Homo sapiens: one gene and its partners. The gene in region 1 interacts genetically with each later gene. Each region holds a gene or a part of one and is shown in the gene's direction. Other genes may lie near its edges.

What was found.
Region 2: changes in MBTPS2 (region 1) and PSMD4 together harm fitness less than expected from each alone (positive genetic interaction), as found in Homo sapiens cells (one large-scale study listed by BioGRID).
Region 3: changes in MBTPS2 (region 1) and ATP6AP1 together harm fitness more than expected from each alone (negative genetic interaction), as found in Homo sapiens cells (one large-scale study listed by BioGRID).
Region 4: changes in MBTPS2 (region 1) and FDPS together harm fitness less than expected from each alone (positive genetic interaction), as found in Homo sapiens cells (one large-scale study listed by BioGRID).
Region 5: changes in MBTPS2 (region 1) and SLC35A1 together harm fitness more than expected from each alone (negative genetic interaction), as found in Homo sapiens cells (one large-scale study listed by BioGRID).
Region 6: changes in MBTPS2 (region 1) and MPHOSPH6 together harm fitness less than expected from each alone (positive genetic interaction), as found in Homo sapiens cells (one large-scale study listed by BioGRID).
Region 7: changes in MBTPS2 (region 1) and KIF14 together harm fitness more than expected from each alone (negative genetic interaction), as found in Homo sapiens cells (one large-scale study listed by BioGRID).

The regions. Positions count from the first base shown.
Region 1 is NC_000023.11:21,863,617-21,867,116, forward strand, and holds part of MBTPS2 (membrane-bound transcription factor site-2 protease), read left to right. Parts: intron 1-3,500. UniProt on the Homo sapiens protein: Zinc metalloprotease that mediates intramembrane proteolysis of proteins such as ATF6, ATF6B, SREBF1/SREBP1 and SREBF2/SREBP2.
Region 2 is NC_000001.11:151,264,734-151,267,979, forward strand, and holds the end of PSMD4 (26S proteasome non-ATPase regulatory subunit 4), read left to right. Parts: intron 1-98; coding exon 99-185; intron 186-432; coding exon 433-501; intron 502-660; coding exon 661-876; intron 877-1,270; coding exon 1,271-1,379; coding exon of another isoform or gene 1,380-1,388; intron 1,389-1,574; coding exon 1,575-1,706; intron 1,707-1,786; coding exon 1,787-1,854; intron 1,855-2,439; coding exon 2,440-2,610; 3' UTR 2,611-2,746; downstream 2,747-3,246. UniProt on the Homo sapiens protein: Component of the 26S proteasome, a multiprotein complex involved in the ATP-dependent degradation of ubiquitinated proteins.
Region 3 is NC_000023.11:154,431,677-154,434,346, forward strand, and holds part of ATP6AP1 (V-type proton ATPase subunit S1 precursor), read left to right. Parts: intron 1-153; coding exon 154-228; intron 229-589; coding exon 590-783; intron 784-1,254; coding exon 1,255-1,295; intron 1,296-1,958; coding exon 1,959-2,044; intron 2,045-2,531; coding exon 2,532-2,670. UniProt on the Homo sapiens protein: Accessory subunit of the proton-transporting vacuolar (V)-ATPase protein pump, which is required for luminal acidification of secretory vesicles.
Region 4 is NC_000001.11:155,315,366-155,318,865, forward strand, and holds part of FDPS (farnesyl pyrophosphate synthase), read left to right. Parts: intron 1-1,488; exon of another isoform or gene 1,489-2,575; coding exon 2,576-2,656; intron 2,657-2,803; coding exon 2,804-2,926; exon of another isoform or gene 2,927-3,031; intron 3,032-3,299; coding exon 3,300-3,388; intron 3,389-3,490; coding exon 3,491-3,500. UniProt on the Homo sapiens protein: Key enzyme in isoprenoid biosynthesis which catalyzes the formation of farnesyl diphosphate (FPP), a precursor for several classes of essential metabolites including sterols, dolichols, carotenoids, and ubiquinones.
Region 5 is NC_000006.12:87,507,474-87,510,973, forward strand, and holds part of SLC35A1 (CMP-sialic acid transporter), read left to right. Parts: intron 1-946; coding exon 947-1,123; intron 1,124-1,567; coding exon 1,568-1,702; intron 1,703-3,500. UniProt on the Homo sapiens protein: Transports CMP-sialic acid from the cytosol into the Golgi apparatus, functioning as an antiporter that exchanges CMP-sialic acid for CMP. Binds both CMP-sialic acid and free CMP, but has higher affinity for free CMP.
Region 6 is NC_000016.10:82,160,225-82,163,724, reverse strand, and holds part of MPHOSPH6 (M-phase phosphoprotein 6), read left to right. Parts: intron 1-3,500. UniProt on the Homo sapiens protein: RNA-binding protein that associates with the RNA exosome complex. Involved in the 3'-processing of the 7S pre-RNA to the mature 5.8S rRNA and play a role in recruiting the RNA exosome complex to pre-rRNA; this function may include C1D.
Region 7 is NC_000001.11:200,614,252-200,617,751, reverse strand, and holds part of KIF14 (kinesin-like protein KIF14), read left to right. Parts: coding exon 1-140; intron 141-2,142; coding exon 2,143-2,397; intron 2,398-3,346; coding exon 3,347-3,434; intron 3,435-3,500. UniProt on the Homo sapiens protein: Microtubule motor protein that binds to microtubules with high affinity through each tubulin heterodimer and has an ATPase activity. Plays a role in many processes like cell division, cytokinesis and also in cell proliferation and apoptosis.

The DNA.
Region 1 (3,500 bases):
TACTGAGACTTCTTTTTCCTTAAAATTGACACCTAATGTCCAAAACTAAGACTAAAGAAGGTTATATATATCCCCACCAATAATTGGGTCCACGCACCTCTTTCAGAGCTTATTAAATGGTATAGAACTAACTAGTCCCGCTATCCCAAACATCACCTAGCCCATTAACTTCTCATTCCCAGTTGTGAGTTGTCAGCCTAGTAGACAGCTGAACAGCTTTGCCCTGCCGTCTTTCCCAGGCAAGGGGGCAAGGTTAGGGGTGGGGAGGAGATGCTTATCTTGCCCTGAATTCAAGACAGGACAAATTCAAAGATCTGGAATTGTCTCTAAAAAGAAGAGTTTAGTATCCCTGCTAAATGTTTGCTGAGCTGTGAGCTCACCGTGGTGTAGCCATCAAAGTGGAAGACAACGTGGGAAACCTGTGTGTTCCTCAAAGTTTAGGGATGTACATAAATTATGTATTTAGAGGGAGAGAGAAATATGTGTGTACCCTCTGCCTACTTTATTGGTTTTAAATTTAGGAATATAATTTCATTGCTTCTAAAATGTCTTCCCACTTCCATGTAAAAAGTCCAGGGTGTCATTTAAATCTAGTTTTTTGTTTTGTTTTGTTTTGTTTTTTGTTTGTTTGTTTGAGACGGAGTTTTGCTCTTGTTGCCCAGGCTGGAGTGCAATGGCACGATCTTGGCTCACTGCAACCTCCGCCTCCTGAGTTCAAGTGGTTCTCCTGCCTCAGCCTCCGAAGTAGCTGGGATTACAGGCACCTGCCACCACACCCAGCTAATTTTTTATGTTTTTTTAGAGATGGGGTTTCACCACGTTGGCCAGGCTGGTCTCGAACTCCTGACCACAGGTGATCCACCCGCCTCAGCCTCCCAATAAATCTAGTTTTATAATGCTACTTTTAAAGAGTTGCATATATAGGCCAGGTGTGGTGACTCACGCCTTTAATCCCAACACTTTGGGAGGCTGAGGTGGGCAGGTTACTTGAGCTCAGAAGTTTGAGACCAGCCTGGGCAACATGGCAAGATTCCGTCTCTACTAAAAATACAAAAAATTAGCTGAGCATGGTGGTGCATGCCTGTGGTCCCAGCTACTCAGGAGGCTGAGGTGGGAGGATGGCTTGAGCCTGGGGGGCAGAGGTTGCAGTGAGCAGAGATTGTACCACTGCACTCCAGCTGGATGACAGAGTGAGAACTCTGTTTCAAAAGCAAAATAAGTTGTATATGTAATAGGTTTTTTTCTTTTTTTCTTTCTTTCTTTCTTTTTTTTTTTTTTTTCTGAGACAGGATATCACCCTGTCACCCAGGCTGAAGGGCAGTGGTACAATCACCGCTCACTGCAGCCTCGACCTCCTGGGTTCAAGTGATCATCCCACTTCTCAGTCTCCCAAGTCGCTGGCACCACAGGTGTGCACCACCACACCCAGCTAATTTTTGTATTTTTTGTAGAGAGGCGGGTCTTGCCATGTTGCCCAGGCTGGTCTCAAACTCCTGGGTTCAAGAGATACAACCACCTCGGCCTCCCAAAGTGCTGGGATTACAGGCATGAGCTAGAGCTACCACACGGGGCTATTTCTTTAAAAAAAAAAAAATGAAATATATACTGATTTTGAAAAGAAAAAGCCACTAAACATCTGTCTGAAATTTGGTGGGGAAAAAAGAGAGATGAGATGAGATACTTCCTGAGCACACTGTAAATGAAGATGTTTAAATTTTGAATTATGGTGTATAGAATTTTTAGAAGAGGGATTAAACAATACCTGCTATCTGGTTCCAAGTGAAGAGTAGATTGCTTTAAAAAAATTCTCTATGCTTTGTTGCTAAAAATTCCTTTATAAATAGTGGAAGTAAAATTTGACCATTCTGTTTCTATACTTAAATGTTTTTAAATCCTTCTTAAATATTGAAAACCCTGTTCTTATTTGTATAAGCCAGTTGTAAGTTTATTTGAGGGCAAAGTAAAAAACATTGGTGATAAAAGTGATGTTGTGATTATAGTAAGCTGGAATTTAAACTTAGAACACAGTGTAAGCCTTGCCAAATTGATAGTTTACATTCTTTCAGCTATAACTACTGTGAGTTATTCAAGGAATATTGAGTTGTTATTTTACCTATTCAGTCATCTGGTGACCTGTAAATCATTTCTGTGTGTTTAGAGAATTAAGGTAGTTGTGGTTTTTTTTTATTATTATTTGCAAACCACACTAAGCATAAGTAGGGCTTGATTGGGGTAGCCCTTAGCCCCCGCTTAATAATAATCACCAGCTTCAAGTCTATGGGTATCTTGCTGCCTTGATGACAACTATAGATTTTCTTCTCCCTTGACCCATGATTTTTGTTTGTTTGTTTGTTTTGTTTTTTTGTTTCTTTGAGACAGAGTATCTTTCTGTCACCCAGGCTGGTCTCAAACTCCTGGTCTCAAGTGATCTGCCCACCTCAGCCTCCCAAAATGCTGGGATTACAGGCATGAGCCACCGTGCCCGGCCCCATGATATTTTTAAACCCTGAGTCTCCCATATTCTGATTTTTCTACTGTTGCCCCAGTCTCATTGCTTAGTATATAAACCAGAATAAAATTGATCCTCAATTCCATCTAAGTCCTACTGTTTCTTGGCTGTTGTTTTATTAAAATCATGAAGAAAGCAAAAAAGGCATTCCATCACAACTATTGAAAAGTGTTCTAGAAGTTACAGTCATTGCTATAAGACCAAACAGGAAGGAAAAGATGAGGTATGAATGTTGGAGGAGATAAATGATTATTATTAGCAAATAATGGAAAATCCAAGAGAATAAAGACTAAGACATCCTAAATGGAAAGTTCAGTTTGGTGATTAATTACAAAGTAAATATACAAAAATAAATGTAGTATTCCTGTGTATCTGAAAGAAACAGATCATGTAATAGGAAGAAAAGATCTCATTCAGAAAGTAATGTGACATATAAAAAATAAAAAACTAACATTTTAAAAGAAGTACACAGGGCCTATATAGAGAAACTACAAATCTGTACTGAGAGATGTAGAAGATTTCAGTAAACAGATGTCGTGTTCCTATGTCAGAAATGTAAAATTATGGATTTACCCCTAGTTATTGCAGTCATTGCAGTGACATTAGAAATCCTAATGTGGGCCAGGCGTAGTGGCTCACACCTGTAATCCTAGCGCTTTGGGAGGCCGAGGTGGGCGGATCACTTGAGGTCAGGAGTTCAAAACCAGTCTGGCCAACATGGTGAAACCCTGTCTCTACTAAAACTACAAAAAAATTAGCCGGGCGTGGTGGTGGGCGCCTGTAATCCCAGCTACTCGGGAGGCTGAGGCAGGTGAATCACTTGAACCCAGGAGGCAGAGGTTGCAGTTAGCTGAGATCTCGCCACTGGGCAACAGAGCGTGACTCTGTCTCAAAAAAAAAAAAAAAGAAAAAAAGAAAAAAAATCCTAATTTGAATAATATTTGGTGGTTGTCAAAATGATTCTCAAATTTATCAGAAAGGATAAGGGGAG
Region 2 (3,246 bases), on another chromosome or scaffold:
GGTACAAAGAAACTGTAAGAAAAAGGGAACCGAGTGACAGAGGAAAGAGCTGAGTGATTCCTCTGGTTAACTCTGAGAACTTCCTCTCCCTTTACAAGCTGGCTCTGAAGCACCGACAAGGCAAGAATCACAAGATGCGCATCATTGCCTTTGTGGGAAGCCCAGTGGAGGACAATGAGAAGGATGTGAGTCCAAGTGGCAGCTGGGGAATGTGGGGAGCCCATGTTTGGGACTGAGGTCTTCCAGCCCTCAGGAGAACCTGGCAGAGGCATCAGGCTCATCACTTTGGGGAAAGGTGAATGTGGAGAATTCAGTGATTCTGTTGGAGGACCTTGGGGAGGTCAATAGATTTCTGTATGCTTTTATGCGGCGGGTCCTTTCCCCCCCTCGAGTATGGAACAGATTTCTTGATTTTTCTCCCCTTCTTCCCAGCTGGTGAAACTGGCTAAACGCCTCAAGAAGGAGAAAGTAAATGTTGACATTATCAATTTTGGGGAAGAGGTGAGTAGGGACTGATTGGAGGGCATTGACTTAATTTGGTCATAAACAGAATGGTCCTTAACCCTGAGGAGTGCGGGTACTGTGGCAGAGTAGTGCAGAAATGGGAAAGAACAGGGAGCAAGGCCTGAAGAAGGGCATCATGTGTTCTTTCCTCCCCAGGAGGTGAACACAGAAAAGCTGACAGCCTTTGTAAACACGTTGAATGGCAAAGATGGAACCGGTTCTCATCTGGTGACAGTGCCTCCTGGGCCCAGTTTGGCTGATGCTCTCATCAGTTCTCCGATTTTGGCTGGTGAAGGTGGTGCCATGCTGGGTCTTGGTGCCAGTGACTTTGAATTTGGAGTAGATCCCAGTGCTGATCCTGAGCTGGCCTTGGTGAGCAAATGTTGACCCCAGGTAGAGTCCAAAGGTCCCTCTTTGTTCTCTTCTGGCACACACATCACAGAGCTTCTATCAGGCTGGATAGTCCTAGACACTACCAATCACTCATTTTCCAAGACCTCCTTTTGCCGCCTCTTCCCTATAATGCTGTCTGATCTCTAGGGGCACCAGTGTCAGATGCTTTCTTGTTCACTTCTGATGAAAACCGAGGCTTCTCCCAAGTCCTTACTTTTTAATCCCGTACCACTGCTTATCCCTCCAGCTTCTTCTCTGTGTGATAAACCAGAAGCTGCCCCTTTATGTTCCTTTCCCACACCCCAACTGACTTTCCCAGCTCCCTGTAGGAGTGAGGGCAGGGGAGCCCTGATTATGCCCTGCCCTTCACCAGGCCCTTCGTGTATCTATGGAAGAGCAGCGGCAGCGGCAGGAGGAGGAGGCCCGGCGGGCAGCTGCAGCTTCTGCTGCTGAGGCCGGGATTGCTACGACTGGGACTGAAGGTGAAAGAGGTGGAATCCGAAGTCCTGGGACTGCGGGATGCTAAACATTGAAAGCTGGGTGTAGGCACTGCAGGGAGAGTGTGGAGGTCTGACAGGGTAGGAATATGTGGGAGGGCTGGGCTAGGAATGGCCTTGGAGGCTGGCCTGTGTGGATATGGCACCAATTCTACCCTGCTCCTCTTTTCCTTTTCCCAGACTCAGACGATGCCCTGCTGAAGATGACCATCAGCCAGCAAGAGTTTGGCCGCACTGGGCTTCCTGACCTAAGCAGTATGACTGAGGAAGAGCAGATTGCTTATGCCATGCAGATGTCCCTGCAGGGAGCAGGTGAGCCAGAGCCTGGGTGGTGCCTAGGCAGAGGTTGGGGTGAGGAAGTGTAACTGAACAGACTGACCTCTCTTCCTCAGAGTTTGGCCAGGCGGAATCAGCAGACATTGATGCCAGCTCAGCTATGGACACATCTGAGCCAGCCAAGGTGAGACCCAACCCTGCCCCCATCAGGTTTAAAGTCCTTGAATTTAGATCCTCATCCCTCTGGGGCTGGGAGTATTTCTACCATAGCTAAGTCCTTTGAGGAGCAGAGGGAAACACATGGATTTGCATTTCTTACATGTAAACCTTGCTAAGGTAGCAATGCTAATGGTCAGAGTTGGAGAAATGTCCTCTTGTTCTGTAATTTTCCTTTCTTGCTGGTGGGAGCAGCCTGGGCAGTTCTCTAGGATGTCTTCCCAGGAGGGAAAAAAGCGGGTCTGGGAAAAAGAAAAAGGAGAACTGGGTGTCTTGAGAGCAGGAAACCTCAATGTGATGGCATCTGTTTTTCTCCTCAGAGCTCAATTAACAGAGTTCTCAGCAGGCCCCTCTATTTGGTTAGTAATAACTGCATTCATGCTGTATAAAGGATTTTGCTGACTTGTCCTTTCCTTACGTCGACCAGAGGTGCCCAGATCCCCACACAGTCAGAAGGCAGGGGGCCTCTGGCAGCGGCATGCTCCTGTCCTTAACACCTGCTTACTTCCTGCCGCTCCATACCCTCCCTTGAGCTCACACTGCCTGTTTGCAGGAGGAGGATGATTACGACGTGATGCAGGACCCCGAGTTCCTTCAGAGTGTCCTAGAGAACCTCCCAGGTGTGGATCCCAACAATGAAGCCATTCGAAATGCTATGGGCTCCCTGGCCTCCCAGGCCACCAAGGACGGCAAGAAGGACAAGAAGGAGGAAGACAAGAAGTGAGACTGGAGGGAAAGGGTAGCTGAGTCTGCTTAGGGGACTGCATGGGAAGCACGGAATATAGGGTTAGATGTGTGTTATCTGTAACCATTACAGCCTAAATAAAGCTTGGCAACTTTTTTTCCTTTTTTGCTTCAAATATTGATGGTTTTGAGTGTGAGAGAGGGGAGGAGTCCCTGGCCTGAAGGAGAACCTTCCTTGTTGAGTTCTCTATGTCTCTGTTTCCACCTGTCTGGGCCTCCTAACGTGCTGGGATTACAGGCCCAGGAGCCAGGTTTCCATTTCTAATGAACGAAGACCTTATTTAAACCACCTTCTTGCCAATAACTTTTACTCTGCACTCACACAGCTGAACCCCAAGCATGGAATGATACTCAACCTTTTCAGTTTTTTCATGTGGACTTCTGAGGTTCAGCAAGTTTAGGTTATTTGGCCAAGGATATTTAGCTAATGAAGAGGCAGAACCAGGATCAAAATCCAAACTTGTCTCAGACCTGTCTCGCCAGGAGTTGAATCACCACCAAACAGTAGTTTCCCATTGGTCAGCTGCCTTCAGTGACTCTGCTCAGCCCTGCAAGTCAGTTCCTTGTAGCAACTACTATACCTTCCTCTACTCCCCGATCACTCTCAACAGAAGCC
Region 3 (2,670 bases), about 130 Mb from region 1:
CCCACCAACACACAGTTGTGCTCCACCATACTGAACCTGACTCTCAGTGAGACTTTGCTGGCCCTGAGAATGCACGGGGAAGGTGGCTGTCCCCTGCCTTGGCCCCCATCACTTGCCAAACCTCCTCAGATGTCTCCCCTATTTCCCTAATAGCTGAGCATTGAGGATTTCACAGCATATGGCGGTGTGTTTGGAAACAAGCAGGACAGCGCCTTTTCTAACCTAGAGGTGAGAGTCCTCTCCCAGCCAGGGGCCATGGGGGACATTCTGTGCTCCTTCTCCCAGCATAAGAACTGTACTCTGACCTCATATCAGGGTTACTTGGGTCTGAGTCTCTTCTGGGTCAACCATCCCCCCCAAAAACAACAACAACAACAAAAGCCACCTCATACTCTTAGGGAGCAGAGACGCTGGCTTTGGGGTAGAAAGGCCTGGGGCCTGAATGTCAGGGGCTGGGGTGTGGGCCATTTTCTTGGTGAGCCTTTATGGGTATGGCTTGCCAGAGGAGAGCTGCCAGAGAGGTGTGGGGGGCTGGGCCAGGCCCACTGGCCCCTGGCTAACTCACCTTTTGCCTCTCCCCTGTCCCCAGAATGCCCTGGACCTGGCCCCCTCCTCACTGGTGCTTCCTGCCGTCGACTGGTATGCAGTCAGCACTCTGACCACTTACCTGCAGGAGAAGCTCGGGGCCAGCCCCTTGCATGTGGACCTGGCCACCCTGCGGGAGCTGAAGCTCAATGCCAGCCTCCCTGCTCTGCTGCTCATTCGCCTGCCCTACACAGCCAGGTACTGCCCGCATGGCCCAGCCACCAGCCTCGGGGCCCAGAGAGCAGCAAGGCCCTGGGCTATGGCATGTGGTGGCACCGTTTGGCTAAAGATGCCAGTACTCCCCACCCCCTCACAGCCCTTCCAGAAGGTGCCCTGTGTGGCCAGAAGAGGAGGGGAGGGCCTCTTCTGTGACTCAGGAGTTGGTGCCTAGCACTGAGCTGGGCCTCCAGAGATGAGGCAGATGTGAGCCCTGCGGGTGGGGAGCCTTCTCACCTAGCCAGGCCCTTGTCACAGAGCAGGTGGCCAGGACTTGAGTGTGACTGAGAAGCCTCGGGGTGGGATGGGCTTCCAGGAGGGGGCACTGAGGTAAGAGTGTGCAGGCTTGGTGCGTGGGGCTAGTGGGGAGGAGAAGCTGGGGTCGGGGAAGGGTAGTGGGCAGTGCAGGTCCAGGCCGCCTGAGGACTCTGGCGCTCTGTTTGTCTTCCATAGCTCTGGTCTGATGGCACCCAGGGAAGTCCTCACAGGCAACGGTGAGTAGAATCAGGGAGGATGCACGTCCTCATCTAGCCCTTGGGTGGGGGCCACAGAGAGAGCTGGCCTGCAGTTCCTCGGCCTCCTCACTCCCAGGGTGGCCCGCCTGCTTCTCGGGGCAGCTGGCAGTGGAGCAGGGAAATGCTGGCTCCCAGGACCAGCCAGGGACCACCTGACAGAAGACCCTGTCCAGCCAGACCCCACTTGGCAGAGGGGGGCGGCTCTCTGTGCTGGAGGCTGTGGAGCCAGTTTCTGTGCAGGCAGCGTGAATCCTAGAGTTATGGGTTTAATAAGACTGCAGACATTTGGAAAAACAATTCTGGGGACTCATCTATTTGCAATAAAGGACAGTCACTCCCCATGGAAAGGCAGTCGTGAACCTTTCATGGGTGGATGTGGAGTTTTCTGTATTGATATGTATTTTCTTATGTCACATAGGTAGGGCTTGGCATTAGGGAATCGATGACTGAAGCCACAGTTGTCTCTGGGGGAGGCTGGGAATGGGGGTGGGATGAGAAGTAGCTGCTCCTAAGGATCCTCAGTGGAAAGTAAACACACCACTTTCAGATGGTCTAGAAGGTTTCTAAAGCAGACAGTGGGGAGTGTTTCTTTATGCAGGGTGCCTGGTGACCTGAGTCTCTGCTCTCCTTGTTGACCCTCAGATGAGGTCATCGGGCAGGTCCTGAGCACACTCAAGTCCGAAGATGTCCCATACACAGCGGCCCTCACAGCGGTCCGCCCTTCCAGGGTATGTGCCCTTCCAGCAGGGGCTCTGGGGCGTGCAGGGAGAGGCAGTGTGGTGAGTCTGCTTGGAGGTGGGGAGTGTATGCCACAGGTAGGCTGCCCAGGAGGCCCAGCATAGGGGAAGCATGAGGCACAGAACCCCTGTGGTGTGACTATTTGGAGTGGCTGACTCTGGGGGCAGGGCTAGGATGAGCACTCAAGTCCTGCCTCCCCATTCCAGGGGCAGCTTTCCATCTCGTCCTGTGAGGCTTGTGGGTGGCAGACTTGGACACTAAGTCTAAATGACCCTAAGTTTGAGGGACTAGGAATGTCATCAGGGTTTAGGGGGCATCAGGGAAGGCTTCCTGGAGGAAAGGTCTCCTCTGGCTGATGGGACTTTGAGATAGTGGACAGGGTGTCCTGTTGGGAGGGGAAGGAGGGCACGACAATTGGGTTCAAGTGTGACACTCTCCCAGGGCTGCTGAAAGAAGGCTGGTTGGGTGTTTCTGCAGGTGGCCCGTGATGTAGCCGTGGTGGCCGGAGGGCTAGGTCGCCAGCTGCTACAAAAACAGCCAGTATCACCTGTGATCCATCCTCCTGTGAGTTACAATGACACCGCTCCCCGGATCCTGTTCTGGGCCCAAAACTTCT
Region 4 (3,500 bases), on another chromosome or scaffold:
GAAACCCCATCTCTACTGAAAATACAAAATTAGGCTGGGCGCAGTGGCTCATGCCTGTAATCCCAGCACTTTGGGAGGCTGAGGCGGGCGGATCATGAAGTCAGGAGATCGAGACCATCCTGGCTAACATGGTGAAACCCCGTCTCTACTAAGAATACAAAAAAAATATTAGCCGGGCATGGTGGCAGGCGCCTGTAGTCCCAGCTATTTGGGAGGCTGAGGTAGGAGAATGGCGTGAACCTGGGAGGCGGAGCTTGCAGTGAGCTGAGATTGTGCCACTGCACTCCAGCCTGGGCAACAAGAGCGAGACTCTGTCTCAAAAAAAAACAAAAAACAAAAAACAAAAAAAAAATTAGCCAGGCGTGGAGGCACATGCCTATAATCCCAGCTACTCAGGAGGCTGAGGCAGGAAAATCGCTTGAACCCGGGAGGCGGAGGTTGCAGTGAGCCAAGATCGCGCTATTGCACTCCAGCCTGGGCAACAAGAGCGAAACTCCATCTCAAAAAAAAAAAAACACACAAACCATGTCTTCTGCTCAAGCCTGGGTGACAGAGTGAGATCCTGTCTCAAAAGAAAATAATAATAAAAATTAAAACCTGGGTATAGGGCCGGGTGCATTGGCTCACACTTAAAATCCCAGCACTTTGGGAGGCCAAGGTGGATGGATCACGTGAGGTCAGGAGTTCGAGACCAGCCTGACCAACATGGTGAAACCTTGTCTCTACTAAAAACACAAAAATTAGCCGGGTGTGATGGCACGTGCCTGTAATCCCAGCTACTTGGGAGGCTGAGGCAGGAGAATCGCGTGAACCCGGGAGGCGGAGGTTGCAGTGAGCCGAGATTGCGCCATTGCACTCCAGCCTGGACAATGAGAGTGAAACTCCATCTCAAAAACAAAAACCTGGGTATGTATCTAGAAGTGGAAAAACAAAAAAAGGAAATAAGTTATGAAAATAAAAACCATGTCTTGAGCTGGGTGCGCTGGTGTGTGCCTATATCCCTAGATTCTCAAGAGTTGAGACAGGAGGATCACTTGAGCCCAGGAGTTCAAGTCCAACTTGGGCAACATGACAAGACCCTTGTCTCTTTAAAAAAGCAACCCAAACCATGTCTTGAAAAGCTATTTAATGGTCAGACACGATGGCTCACGCCTGTAATCCCAGCACTTTGGGAGGCCGAGGCAGGCGGATCACTTGAGGTCAGGAGTTCAAGACCAGCCTGGCCAACATGGCAAAACCCAGTCTCTACTGAATGAAAATACAAAAATTAGCTGGCCTAGCAGTTGGTGGTGGCAGGTGCCTGTAGTCCCAGCTACTTGGGAGGCTGAGGCAGGAGAATCGCTTGAATTTGGGAGGCGGAGGTTACAGTGAACCCACATGGCGCCACTGCACTCCAGCTTGGGTGATAGAGTGAGACTCTATCTCAAAAAAAAAAAAAAAGAAAAGCTATTTAAGGAACCAAAACATAGTTTGACTGACTGCAAGAAGTATCACAGGGAATGTTAGAGTGTTTTATTAATTTCTTTGTCAGACAAGTGTTTAGGAAACTCTCACTCCAGGCCTAATGCTGTGCTAGGCTCTGCAAATGCTAAGAGGGGGAAGTTACTGTCCCTGCTTCCAAGGAGATCATGGTCTAGTGGGAAACCCGACACGTTCAGGTACCTTCAGATGGGCACTCAGAAGAGTAAGCCCTTAGTTAATGTTTAAAGATGTTTAAAGATGTCTGAGACTCATAGGTCAAAGTCAGATTTCAGTTCCACCTTATTAGACCTGCACTGCTAAGGAGCTGCTTTAGGTAAGGCTGTGTTCCTAGTCACCAGGGTGTTCAAACACAGTGCTGGGGGCAATGTGGGAATAGCCTTCTTTTATTTAGGAAGTAATGTGAAGTCAGTTTCATGAATAGATCTTACTTTAAGCATTCATTGAGGTTTTTGGCAAGAATAGAGTACGGTATATGAAGGTGTTTCCTAATCTCCCTGACACCAGGAATAATCTAGGGCTCATTAGAGATGTCAAAGATCTGTTCTAGTTTCTTAACCTAAAACAAGAGTGTTTTAGTTCCATTTTATAGGCGGGGAGTCTGAGCCAAACATGTTATGTCACTTTCCAAGTCTCCATAGCACAGAAGTCTTCTGTCTCCCCATCCTGACTTTCCCAGCTCATAGGGACTGTCAAAGGCAGCAGCTCTGGCCGGCTGTGATGCCTCATGCCTGTAATCCCAGTAATTTGGGAGGCTGAGGCAGGAGGATCATTTGAACCCAGGGGTTCAAAACCAGCCTGAGCAACATAGTGGGACCCTGTCTCTACAAAAAATAAATTAAAAAAAAAAAATAGCCAGGCATGGGGTATGTGCCTATGGTCTCAGGAACTCAGGAAGCTGAAGTGGGAGGATCACTTGAGCCTGGGAGTTAGAGGCTACAGTGAGCTGTGACTGCACCACTGCACTGGATAATAGTGAGACTCTGTCCCCTACCAAAAAAAAGCAAAACTATATACAGATATAAAGTAGCAGCTCTGTTGCTGATAGAAGGAACAGTAATGAGGAGCCCTGCAGGTCTTATTCCACTCTTTCTAGCTGCAAGCTTTCTTCCTGGTGGCAGATGACATCATGGATTCATCCCTTACCCGCCGGGGACAGATCTGCTGGTATCAGAAGGTAATGTGGGCAGGAAAATAGCAGTGGGTATGGGGACAGGCCACAGGGAGGTGGTTATATATGGCCTGGTTGAGGTGTTGGGGTGATGGCTCTTAGTATGAACCGAGACTAGAGATTGATTGCTTGTTTTTCTGTCTGTCATGACAGCCGGGCGTGGGTTTGGATGCCATCAATGATGCTAACCTCCTGGAAGCATGTATCTACCGCCTGCTGAAGCTCTATTGCCGGGAGCAGCCCTATTACCTGAACCTGATCGAGCTCTTCCTGCAGGTGTATTGCAGACAGGGCCCGATGCCCAGAGGGTGCCCATGGTAGCCTTGGCCTCTATAGGACATGCTCATCTAGCTGGTTTCAGGGTACAGGATTGCAGCGTGCCTGGAAGGGAAAGAAAGCGAGGAAGGGTGTTGGGAAGTGGGGTTGTGGTAGTGGCAAGAAAGGGCTTCTCTGTCCTGTGTAATTGGAAGAAAGGGTGATAAAGGACTGTGTGTATGAATATGGGCCTTAAGTTTTGGGGCTTTCTCCCCTTCTGTTGCCTTTCTGATTCTGCCCAGTTGTCAGCTGGTATGGGATGTTGGGCTTGGGATACCAGGGTTTCGCATATCTGGAGAAAGCCTGGCTCATGGACCGTCTTTGTCTTGCTTAGAGTTCCTATCAGACTGAGATTGGGCAGACCCTGGACCTCCTCACAGCCCCCCAGGGCAATGTGGATCTTGTCAGATTCACTGAAAAGAGGTGAGGGGAGGTGAGGGACAGCGCGAACCATGTCTGGACAGCGAGGGAGGGCTCAGGATGTGCATTGCCCTCCTGAGGAGTTTCTCTTCTCCCCTTACTCAGGTACAAATCT
Region 5 (3,500 bases), on another chromosome or scaffold:
TGGTTTAATATCTCTCTGTGTTTACGGTAACTGAGCACTGGATAAATGCTTCTCCCAGAAGGTAAAATCAGAGGTGAAAATAAGAATAGCTATTTTATGTTCCCATTCCAACAGACTCATCAAAAATAATCTTGTTTTTCGTTAGACTTTTTAGTTGATAAGTACTTCATTGGCAGTTCCTAAGTCTCTAGCATGATATTTATAACTAAAATCTTTAATGGCTTTGTAAAATATGCATTCATTTTAAGCATAAATCCAGAGATAGGGGACTTTTGTTGGGGAGGGGTATCATGTACTCCTTTGAAGTATCTGAAAAAATCTATGGACCTTCAACTCCAGAAAAATGCACATATACACAAAATTTATTATCCAGTTGGGGAGTTCATGATCCTTCTGACCTTGTGTATGAACTTGGCTTGTGGAACCCTGCTTTAAAGGAAAATGGCTTTACACAGCAAATTCTACTTCAGTTTTGGTTGTTACTCTGAAAAGATTCCTAGTGGTGATTATAGATTATATTGCAGAATTAGGAGTATTCATTAGTAGGCAGATATTACAGGGATGTGATTAAGATAATTCACTCTTAATGTAGTTTTTCAGCTGACCAAAGCAAATGACATACTGGCATTAAGTAGTACAGAGAGCTTTTGTGGTCTTACTGCTCTAATAAAGGCAGAAACTGTCTTAATTTAACAGCCTTCTGTTAAATGTAGCTTATAAACTTCCCAATTAGTTATTATTCTATATACTCTGTAAAAACATAAATTTATAATGTACAGTATGTCATGTGTCACACAACCTACATAATAAATGCACATTTAAGTAAAGTATGTTTTGTTCCCCAAATCATATACTTTATATATCTCTAGGGTATTGTTCTAAATGAAAGACATTTTAAGTTAATTTATAGTAATCTTTAATATTTGCATGTCTAATTTTCTTTCAGGAGTATATTTTGAAAAAGTTTTAAAGAGTTCAGATACTTCTCTTTGGGTGAGAAACATTCAAATGTATCTATCAGGGATTATTGTGACATTAGCTGGCGTCTACTTGTCAGATGGAGCTGAAATTAAAGAAAAAGGATTTTTCTATGGTTACACATATTATGTCTGGTTTGTCATCTGTAAGTATCCAGGAATTAAAGGTTCTTAGTAGATCCTTTATTTTTTTTTTAAGTTAGATGTCCATTTTAAGCTGTTATAACATTTTGAAATTAATCCTTTGATACTGTAAATACCAGTTTGAATATAATTTTCATTTTGTTGACTTAGTTTTGATTGTGAAGGCAAAATTGCTTTGGGATAGCAATGCCCCAAAATATCTAACATTAGCAAAAAATGTGTAAAATTTAATAGACCACATAGCCCTCTGGGCATTGTTTTGGAAAAACAGTGTTATATAGGAACTACCAATTTTAGTACAAACTCTCAGATGGCTCCTTCTAAGGAAAACAGTATTTTCCTTTTCCTAGGTAAAGTATGGCATCTCTGGGGATGAAAATTGCCTCACCATTATGTAATGTTTCATTTATTTGAGTGATAAGATTTTATTTCTCTCTGTATACAAGTTCTTGCAAGTGTTGGTGGCCTCTACACTTCTGTTGTGGTTAAGTACACAGACAACATCATGAAAGGCTTTTCTGCAGCAGCGGCCATTGTCCTTTCCACCATTGCTTCAGTAATGCTGTTTGGATTACAGATAAGTATGTCTTAGTTTGTGTTGAGTTTTTAACATGGAAGAGCCTCCCATTTCCTTGATTCATTTAATCCCTTATTTAAAAGTGGCAGTTGGTCATACTGTTTACAGAAATTCCTAGCTTTGTTACTACAGTTTATTCCACCAGTACAGCTGTTCATAGTTGTGTGGGATGTGGCTAAGCAGTACTTTGGTTGTTTAGGTGGTCTTAGAGGTTAAGACGAGGGGTGCTAGTTCTATGTGAAAGTGAGGGGACTTTTTTTGCAGTCAAGGCCTCCCTGTATTTTTAGGTATTGTATATAGGACAACTTGAGTGTCTGAATGTGAGAAGGTACTCAAGGAAATACATATAAAGACTTTAGGAAATTATTTTCAGCAGTCAGTTTAAACTATATTGGCTCATTATTTAGAAGAATGTAGAAAACATCTTTTAGTCCTCCCTCAGCTTGTACTTTCCAACTGCTTTGCATTTGGGTGTGAGACGGTTTTGAAAACAATCAAAATCTAGATTTTGTCTTTTGTATCTTTGTTTCATTCAATATGTAATTAATACAAAACTCATTAATATAGCTGGCATTCCAGTACCACTGCTTTGTTAGTCCTAATATAATTTTCCCAACTCTCACACCCAGCATTAATTTGGCTTCTAAATTATTTAAGCAATGATATTGACTTAACATTTCAGGGTGCTTTTATAGTGTAATAATTTTCTTTACTGATCAATTATTATAATATAAACCAATGTATGAAGAATATCTGTTAAATATATTAAGTAAAAGAGACCTGGCTTATATTTACATTTCATTTTAAAATTGACTCCTGTATATAAATGGAAATAGTGTTGTAGAAATTTTAGAAAACCATGTATAGTCTGTGGCAAATCTTGCCTGTACCATTTCTTAACTGTGCAGCCTTGGGGAAGTTATATTCCCTGGGTGACACTTTCTTCATCTGTAAAATGGGAATAATATCACCTATTGCCTAGTGGTGTTTTCAGGTGAAGTGCTTAGAGTAGTGTTTGACACTACTTACCAACCACTTACCATTTCAGTATCAGGTACTTATAGGCTTTCCCTTAGATGTTTTTCTACCTGATTTGGGTGAACTTTTAGCTGTAATTCTGATCTATCTTTATGTTCAACAAAATCCTTATACCATTGCTCATAAGAAATATATAGGAACAGTAGAAAATGCTTTTGTTTAATGTTCTTACTGATGGTCAACTAGCATGTCTTAGCAATCTTTCAGTTAACTGTTTAGATACAAGTTTTTATCCTACCTTCTCCTTTTTTGAAGGCAAAGCTGGTCTTTTTTAGTTAGGAGTGAACTAAAATAAAGCTTGATGTCATATAAATATATTTATTTGTCAAGTTAGGACAAGTTATGATTTGGTTTCTTGCATCCTGATTTTTAAGATTAAAATGAAAAAAGGTGCCGGGCATGGTGGCTCATGTCTGTAATCCCAGCACTTTGGGAGGCTGAGGCGGGTGATAACCTGAGGTTGGGGACCAGCCTGACCAACGTGGAGAAATCCTGTCTCTACTAAAAATACAAAATTGGCTGGGCACGGTGGCGCATGCTCCTCCCGGCTACTCGAGAGGCTGAGGAAGGAGAATTGCTTGGACCTGGGAGGCAGAGGTTGCGGTGAGCCGAGATTGCGCCATTGCACTCCAGCCTGGGCAACAAAAGCGAAACTCCGTCTCAAAAAAAAAAAAGATGAAAAAAGGGTTAAGACTAGTAGGAAATGTAGTTTTATTCAGTAAATTATCGCCTCATCTCCGATTAAGAAATTATCAATGGTTTGA
Region 6 (3,500 bases), on another chromosome or scaffold:
ACAGAGTTCATTAGGTTGAGCATTTTAAGGCAGGTCAGAAGTTTTTGTTTCTTCTTTTAAATTGTTACTACTTGTAATACCATCCATTTTAGCTAACATTTACTGAATCTATAGTGTGTACCAGGAACTGGGCTAAACACTTTACATCTGTAGTTATTGAATCTTCGTAGCAAACTTAGGAACTGCCTCCTATGATTCTGTCACTTTGTAGTTGAGGAACTGAGCTTAAGGGAGGGTAACTTGCCCAGCTTCACCCAGCTAGTCAGTGCTGAAGGCTGGGGTAGACAGTTTCTGGCCCACCCCTAAGCTTGGCTGGTGCCTGATCAACAATTTTGAATGAAGGAGTGTTGGATTTATTTCATCCATTAATTTAGCTGAATCCTTCTGGAAGCTATTTTTCATTTTTCCCTGATACTTTCCTCACCTTAGTAAGCTCTGTTGTATGGTAGTTTTACTTAAACTTTGGTCAAATGACTGAAGATGCTGCTTACTGTCTTGAGGCACATTTATGTGTTTCCATTCTGTACCTGATGTTTGGGCTTTGATTTGGAATGTTATATTCCCCTGTTCATTTGGCTGACCTCTGGACATTGTTTGAAGGTTAGATACCCTTCTCTAAAGATAGAAAGTATGTCCCACCAGGAGGGATCGGGAGAAGGTACTTTTTTTCTCTGCTTCTCAGAGGAAGCAAGATGTTGGTGAGGAGGGAGAAGATAGTGCCAGGGGCAGGGTCACAGGGAGGAAGGGACCTTTGCTGCTGGAGCTATAATTTACTTTTATGCCTTAAGTAAACTTGCCAAAGTGTTCCTTCCAGTTGTTTATTAAAGAGCAGGACTGTTTCTATCTTGTTTCCAGTATTTTTCCCCTAATACAGCATATTATTCCCAGAAAATGACCTTTACATTTCTTTCTGGGAAGGTAAATAATGCCTTTTTGCCATTACTCAGCATCCTGTTTATGTATAGGTGTGTATATCAGCTCAGGATGTTGGCAGGAGAAGATGACACTCTCAGACTGAGGAGAGACTATCAAGGTGTGGGTGGGGCATAGGGGGGCCCCTCGGGGCAGTGCAGCACCTCCTAGCATGTGTAGTGGGAGTGATTACCACCTGAGCTTGCAGAGTCAACGGGTGGGTGGGGAATAGCTGCTACCGAATCTGCAGATAAGTTGTGTAGAGAGAGCACCTTACAGGAGCTGCTACCTCCATTCACGGGTACGGCCAGCCCAAGGTCATCCTAGCAAGGGAGCCAGGTACCTGGCAGCAAAGGAGCCCTTCCGTGCATTACGTTCAAGTCAGCCTCCCAGGCCAGAGAAACAGGTGAAGACGGGAAGTAGGTCTGGAGGGGTGAATGGATGACATGTCCTTGGTATACGTGTTGTATTGAGTTGTTGTTTTTAACACTCTAAATAGGGAGATCATGGAATGGATTGGTTGATTAAGCACATGGGCTCTGAAGTCAGGCAGACCTGGGTTTGATGCCCAGCTCCGCCAGTTGTTTACTTGTCACCTTGGGTGAGTTACTTAACCTGTTTTGTGTCATTTGTGTATTGGGTATGATGATAGTACCTGTCCAGTACATTCCGAGAAGTAGATGAGGTAATATATGTAAAACAGTCACCATAACACCAGGCATAAAGCACAGTGATTGTCACCATTGTGTGTATTTCCTTATATCTGAATATATGAAGTACACCCATTCCTTTCTACTCACTTATGTTTGTGTATCCTTTTTTGCTAGTGTTGTCTTAACTATTCTGTGAATTTGGAGATTGCATGTGTCTGTGCTCTGAAAGTCTCGACTTTCCCATTTTTAATGTCAGCCGTATCAGTCTGTAATTCAGTGAAGATAATTAGGGCTATTCAGTGTTAACACTGCCTCACAGGGGACACTTTTAGCCAGTGGCTAGACCATGTAGGGGAATGATGATCTAGCTGCTGTGCCTCAACTTGGAACAACTGAAGGGCATTCCTGACTCCAGAGCTCTCATATGTGGCTGAGGCCTTAGTGTAGCCACATTGCCCATTATCTTCTCCCTCTGCCCAATCCTTCTTTCTCTGTTTTCCTAGAAGGGCATCTGCTGAACAACACTGCCTGCTAAGTTTTCTGCATATATGTCTGTCTCAGAGTCTGTTTCCAGGGAACCCGATATAGTGTGAATTCCTAGGAGTGAAATTTACCAGATGAAAGATTTTGCTATCTATTGCCTTATTGTTTTTTTCCCCAAGGATATGGTCCAGAAAGAGTGTGCAAGTATAGGCAGTTTAATTCCTCCTTTGCCGTAGCAAGTTGTTTAAGAAGTATTTTTGGCTATTGTACATCTTATACTTGTGTTTTGTGGTCTGTTTGGAGTCAGAAGCTATAGGGACCTGAAACTAACAAGTTAGCCTGCCACACTTTCACTGATGCTGGTGGAAGATAGGAACCTTCTGGGTCTGAGATGTAGGGGAGGGACAATAGCCTTTCCTTCCACCCATTTGAAGTTCATTAGTTGGGGTCCCTGTAACAAAAGACAGATTAACAAAGAGAAAGGTATACACTTTTATTTCACAAAAGTTTTAGGTGACACAGGAGCCTTCATAAGAAAATGAATACCGAAGAACTGGTTGAACCTGAGTGTTTTTATGTTAGCTTTGATGAAGAGTGGAAAGTTGTGAAGAAATATGATGGGAGCAAGGGGTATGAACGAAGAGTAATAAGCCAGGAGAAACTTAGCAAGTCTTTTGTTCAGATTCCTCTCTCTGTCCCTTCTTCTGAGATAAGGATGTTGCTTTCCTCTGAGTGTAGGGAGGGCACCTCTTATGTGAGATGCTTTTATGACCTGCTTCAGGGGACAGTCAGAAAATCCTACCTGCACGTCATTTTTCAGATTCCTCCAGTGTAAAATTTTCAGTATGCCAAGATGCCATATTTTGGGAGTAGTGTCTCCTGAACACCATCAGAAACAAAGGACTTACTGTACAGCAAGCAGCACAAGCATCAAGTTTGCGTCATTTCTCTTTTGTCCCCAACTCCTATGAGGGATGGCGTGAAGTGGCCCAGGTGGATGCTGTGCACCCAGTGGATTTGCATCATAGCTGAGATCTCCTGAGCTTAGAAAACTGGAACCTTGGATAACGGACCACAAGCAGACTTGCCTTCGGCCCCAAGAGAGGCATCTGTATTATGCTGGACAGTAAGCAAATCTGCCCTTCGCTTTAGAGGAAGACTGTTTTTCAAGGCTGCTCGCTATGCAGATATCCTTGCAAAGATAGTCCAGAGCAACCGGGCAGTTAGTGCCTCACTCAAAAAATGTGCAGGAATGTGAGACCCACTGAGAAGGGTTTTCTAACTGGAGTTTTGCCATGGTATTTGTGGCTTTAGGCAAGTCCAGCTTTTTCTGAGCAGTAGTTTCTCATCTGCGAAATTTATGAAATAATTTTGTGGGTGTGTTTTAGCCTGAAAATTATCCTCATTAATGAAAATTGGATAATTAAAATACAAAAAGAGGTAAGTTTTGAA
Region 7 (3,500 bases), on another chromosome or scaffold:
AAACAGGAAAGATCCGCAGAAAATACAATTCTTCCCGAAGAAGAAACTGTAGTTCAGAACACCTCTGCAGGAAAAGACCCCTTAAAAGTAGAGAATAGTCAAGTGACAGTGGCAGTACGCGTAAGACCTTTCACCAAGAGGTATGTGATGCCTTTTAAAATCTAAAGCCAAGCAGTTACATGTAAGGTACCTTTAATTCCTCTCTGCCTTTGGAAGGTCAGTGTATTCGTGCATCTTCAAACTTGTTGGCAATACTTTTATATAGAAAGAACTTTTAGGTCTAGTTGTAGTGTGTGTTGATAATTTTTGATCACTGACTATAAAATTAAAAAATTGAATCACCATATTTTGTATATTGAAGTTTCTCTAGATATATTGCTTTTAAAAAGTCTGAATAAGTCACTTAGGTCTCTAATGAAATCTGCTTTCAGATCTGCAATATATGCTGGAATGTTATACCTATCCCTTAAAAAGAGCCATAACAGGCCAGGTGTGGTGGGTCACGCCTGTAATCCCATTGCTTTGGGAGGTCAAGGCAGGCAGATCACTTGAGGCCAGGGGTTTGAGACCAGCCTGGCCAATATGGTGATACCCTGTCTCTACTAAAAATACAAAAATTAGCTGGGCATGGTGTTGCACACCTGTAATCCCAGCTACTCGGGAGGCTGAGGCAGGAGAATCACTTGAACCCGGGAGGCAGAGGCTGCATTGAGCTGACATCAGGCCACTGCACTCCAGCCTGGGCGACAGAACGAGACTGTCTCAAAAAAAAGAAGAGCCATAACAAATTACTGGTTCCCTAAAGAGGTCCTTTCAAAACCCTTTCCAGAGTGGTGATTATCATCATCATTGTCTCCGATTACTATATAGTAGTTATAAATGCAGTGATACATTAGATTTGATTTTGATGGCAAAAAATCTCTCTCTAAAAGTGGTTGTGGGTGGGGAAGACACAGATTAAAGATAAGGTTGGAAAAGATGGACATGACAAAATGTGAATGTGACAAAATGTAATTGTTTTAAAATATTTTAATGTAGTTGTTTAAAATATTTTAAGGGACAGTGAAAAACTTCACAGAGTTAGTAGTGTTTAACTTGAAGCTGTGTATCTAAGCAAGTTAGAAGAGGATTTGGTGACCACTGCATCAGGGCAGGAACCTCCAGTTTGAACCTAAGGGGTCAGTAGTTAAAGGCAAGTTATACAGTACTGTAGAATCTTTTTCGTGCAAATGGGTTAGTATTAAGAGGGAGAACTGAGGGTGAGTTGGTTTGAGAGAATTGGAATGTCTAATAGAGCCTCAAGAACCATGATAGGAAGAGAAACAATAGAAAGAGCTGGTAGGGACAAAATGCAAGATGGATGACTATACTGAACTTAGTAAGGGACCAAGTGCCTGATTCCAAACTCATCAGACAAGCCTTGAAAGCAGGGCCAGGGTAGAGTACTTGTCAAATTGATGAGGCAGGTGTTTTTTCCAGAATAAATTCTGATTTAAAGCAGTCTCAGAGTCAGGGATGGAGCGGGGAGGGAGTGTATATCTGGAGCCAGACAAAGAGTGATGATGTTTTTCTGTAGATCTAAAGTAAATGAAAGATTTCCACCTAAGTCTCAAAGGGAAAAAGGATATACAGAAAGATTCATGATTTTAAGGGAGAGAATCTAGAGGAAGGAGGAGAGATCTTTAGTAGCCAAGAGAGACTTATGATTGAAACTTACAGTCAACTGAGTTTGTTAAAATTAGATATTTGTATTTTATGCCAGCTTTATTTAGATTGGTACCCCCCCAAATTTGTATAATAAAGATGTAGATTTGGATGAAGAGTATAGGTAGATTATAGTAGGTGGGATGGGAAAAGGTATAGTTCAAGAGAAAAAAAAAAGAGGAAAAAATCTTGTAAAAGTAGGATAGGTTTTCTGGAGGAATCTGGGATTTTCCCTTTGGTGGCACTGGAGCCTCAGGAAATATATTTTGGAAACCCACTAGAATTATGTTTGCTTATCTGCATTTTCCACATAAAACTACAGAATTATCTTGCCTTGGAAGATTGTTTAAATAGTTTTGAGGTATTTATTATGTTCTGTGAGAATAATACCCTTGATCATTTTAGTTACTTGATTTTTTTCTTTGTGCTTCTTTCAAGAGAGAAGATTGAAAAAGCATCCCAGGTAGTCTTCATGAGTGGGAAAGAAATAACTGTGGAACACCCTGACACGAAACAAGTTTATAATTTTATTTATGATGTTTCATTCTGGTCTTTTGATGAATGTCATCCTCACTACGCTAGCCAGACAACTGTCTATGAGAAGCTAGCAGCACCACTCCTAGAAAGAGCCTTCGAAGGCTTCAATACCTGTCTTTTTGCTTATGGTCAGACTGGCTCTGGAAAATCATATACGTAAGTTGTATTGGAAATGCAATTATCCAGAAGTGTTTAAATATACTTTTGTGAGAAGTGGCATAGGGGTGATAGAAAGAATATAGTTTTGAAATCACACAGATCTTGGCCCAAATCTCATCCATTTTATATACCAGTTCTGCAAACTTGGGCAATTTACTTAGCCTCTGGGCTTCAGTTTATACATTTACCTTGATACAATTCATCTTGTAATTATCATTGGCCCCATTTTACTGTACTTTATATATTTTACATAAACTAAGGCCTAGAGAGGTTATCTTTTAAGTATTTTGGTGAGAATTAAAAGTAAGGCATCTAAGCTAGATGTGATGGCACACACCTGTAGTCTCAGCTACTTGGGAAGCTGAGGTAGGAGGATTGCTTAAGTGCAGGAGTTCGAGTCCAGCCTGGGCAACTTAGTCCCCATCTCTTAAGAAAAAAGGGTGGAGGGGCATCTGATAAATGGTAGCTATGATAATAATACCTGTCCTAGAAAGAAATACTCAGCATTTTAACAGTAGCTAACATTTGAGTTCTTTTTTTTTTTTTTTTTTTTTTTTTTTTGTAGCAAGGTTTGTTGTGAAGAGCGAAAGAACAGAGCTTCCACAGTCCACAGCGTGGAGGGGTCCCAAGCGGGTTGCCCAACATTTGAGTTCTTACTATATTCCAGACACTGTGCTAAAGACTTTGCTTATATTCTTTCACAACAATTCTCTGAATTAGATAGTTGTATTATTCCTGTTTTACAGTAGAGGAAATTGAAGTTTAGTGAGGTTAAATATCTTGGAGTCAAGATTTGGACTCAGGCAGATTTGACTCCAGAGTCCAGATTCTTAATTATGAGATTCAGTGAACTTGCTTCCTACTCCCTTCCCAGCCTATTTCCCCAAAAAGAATTTTAAAGAAAGAATTAGTTTTATTTCCCCCTTATTCATAATGTATTTTTCAGGATGATGGGATTTAGTGAAGAACCAGGAATAATTCCAAGATTTTGTGAAGATCTTTTTTCTCAAGTAGCCAGAAAACAAACCCAAGAGGTATGTTCTTATAATACCTGCAAGCTTCTTTTCAGAGTAGAAAATAGTCAAATCAAGTTCAAATCA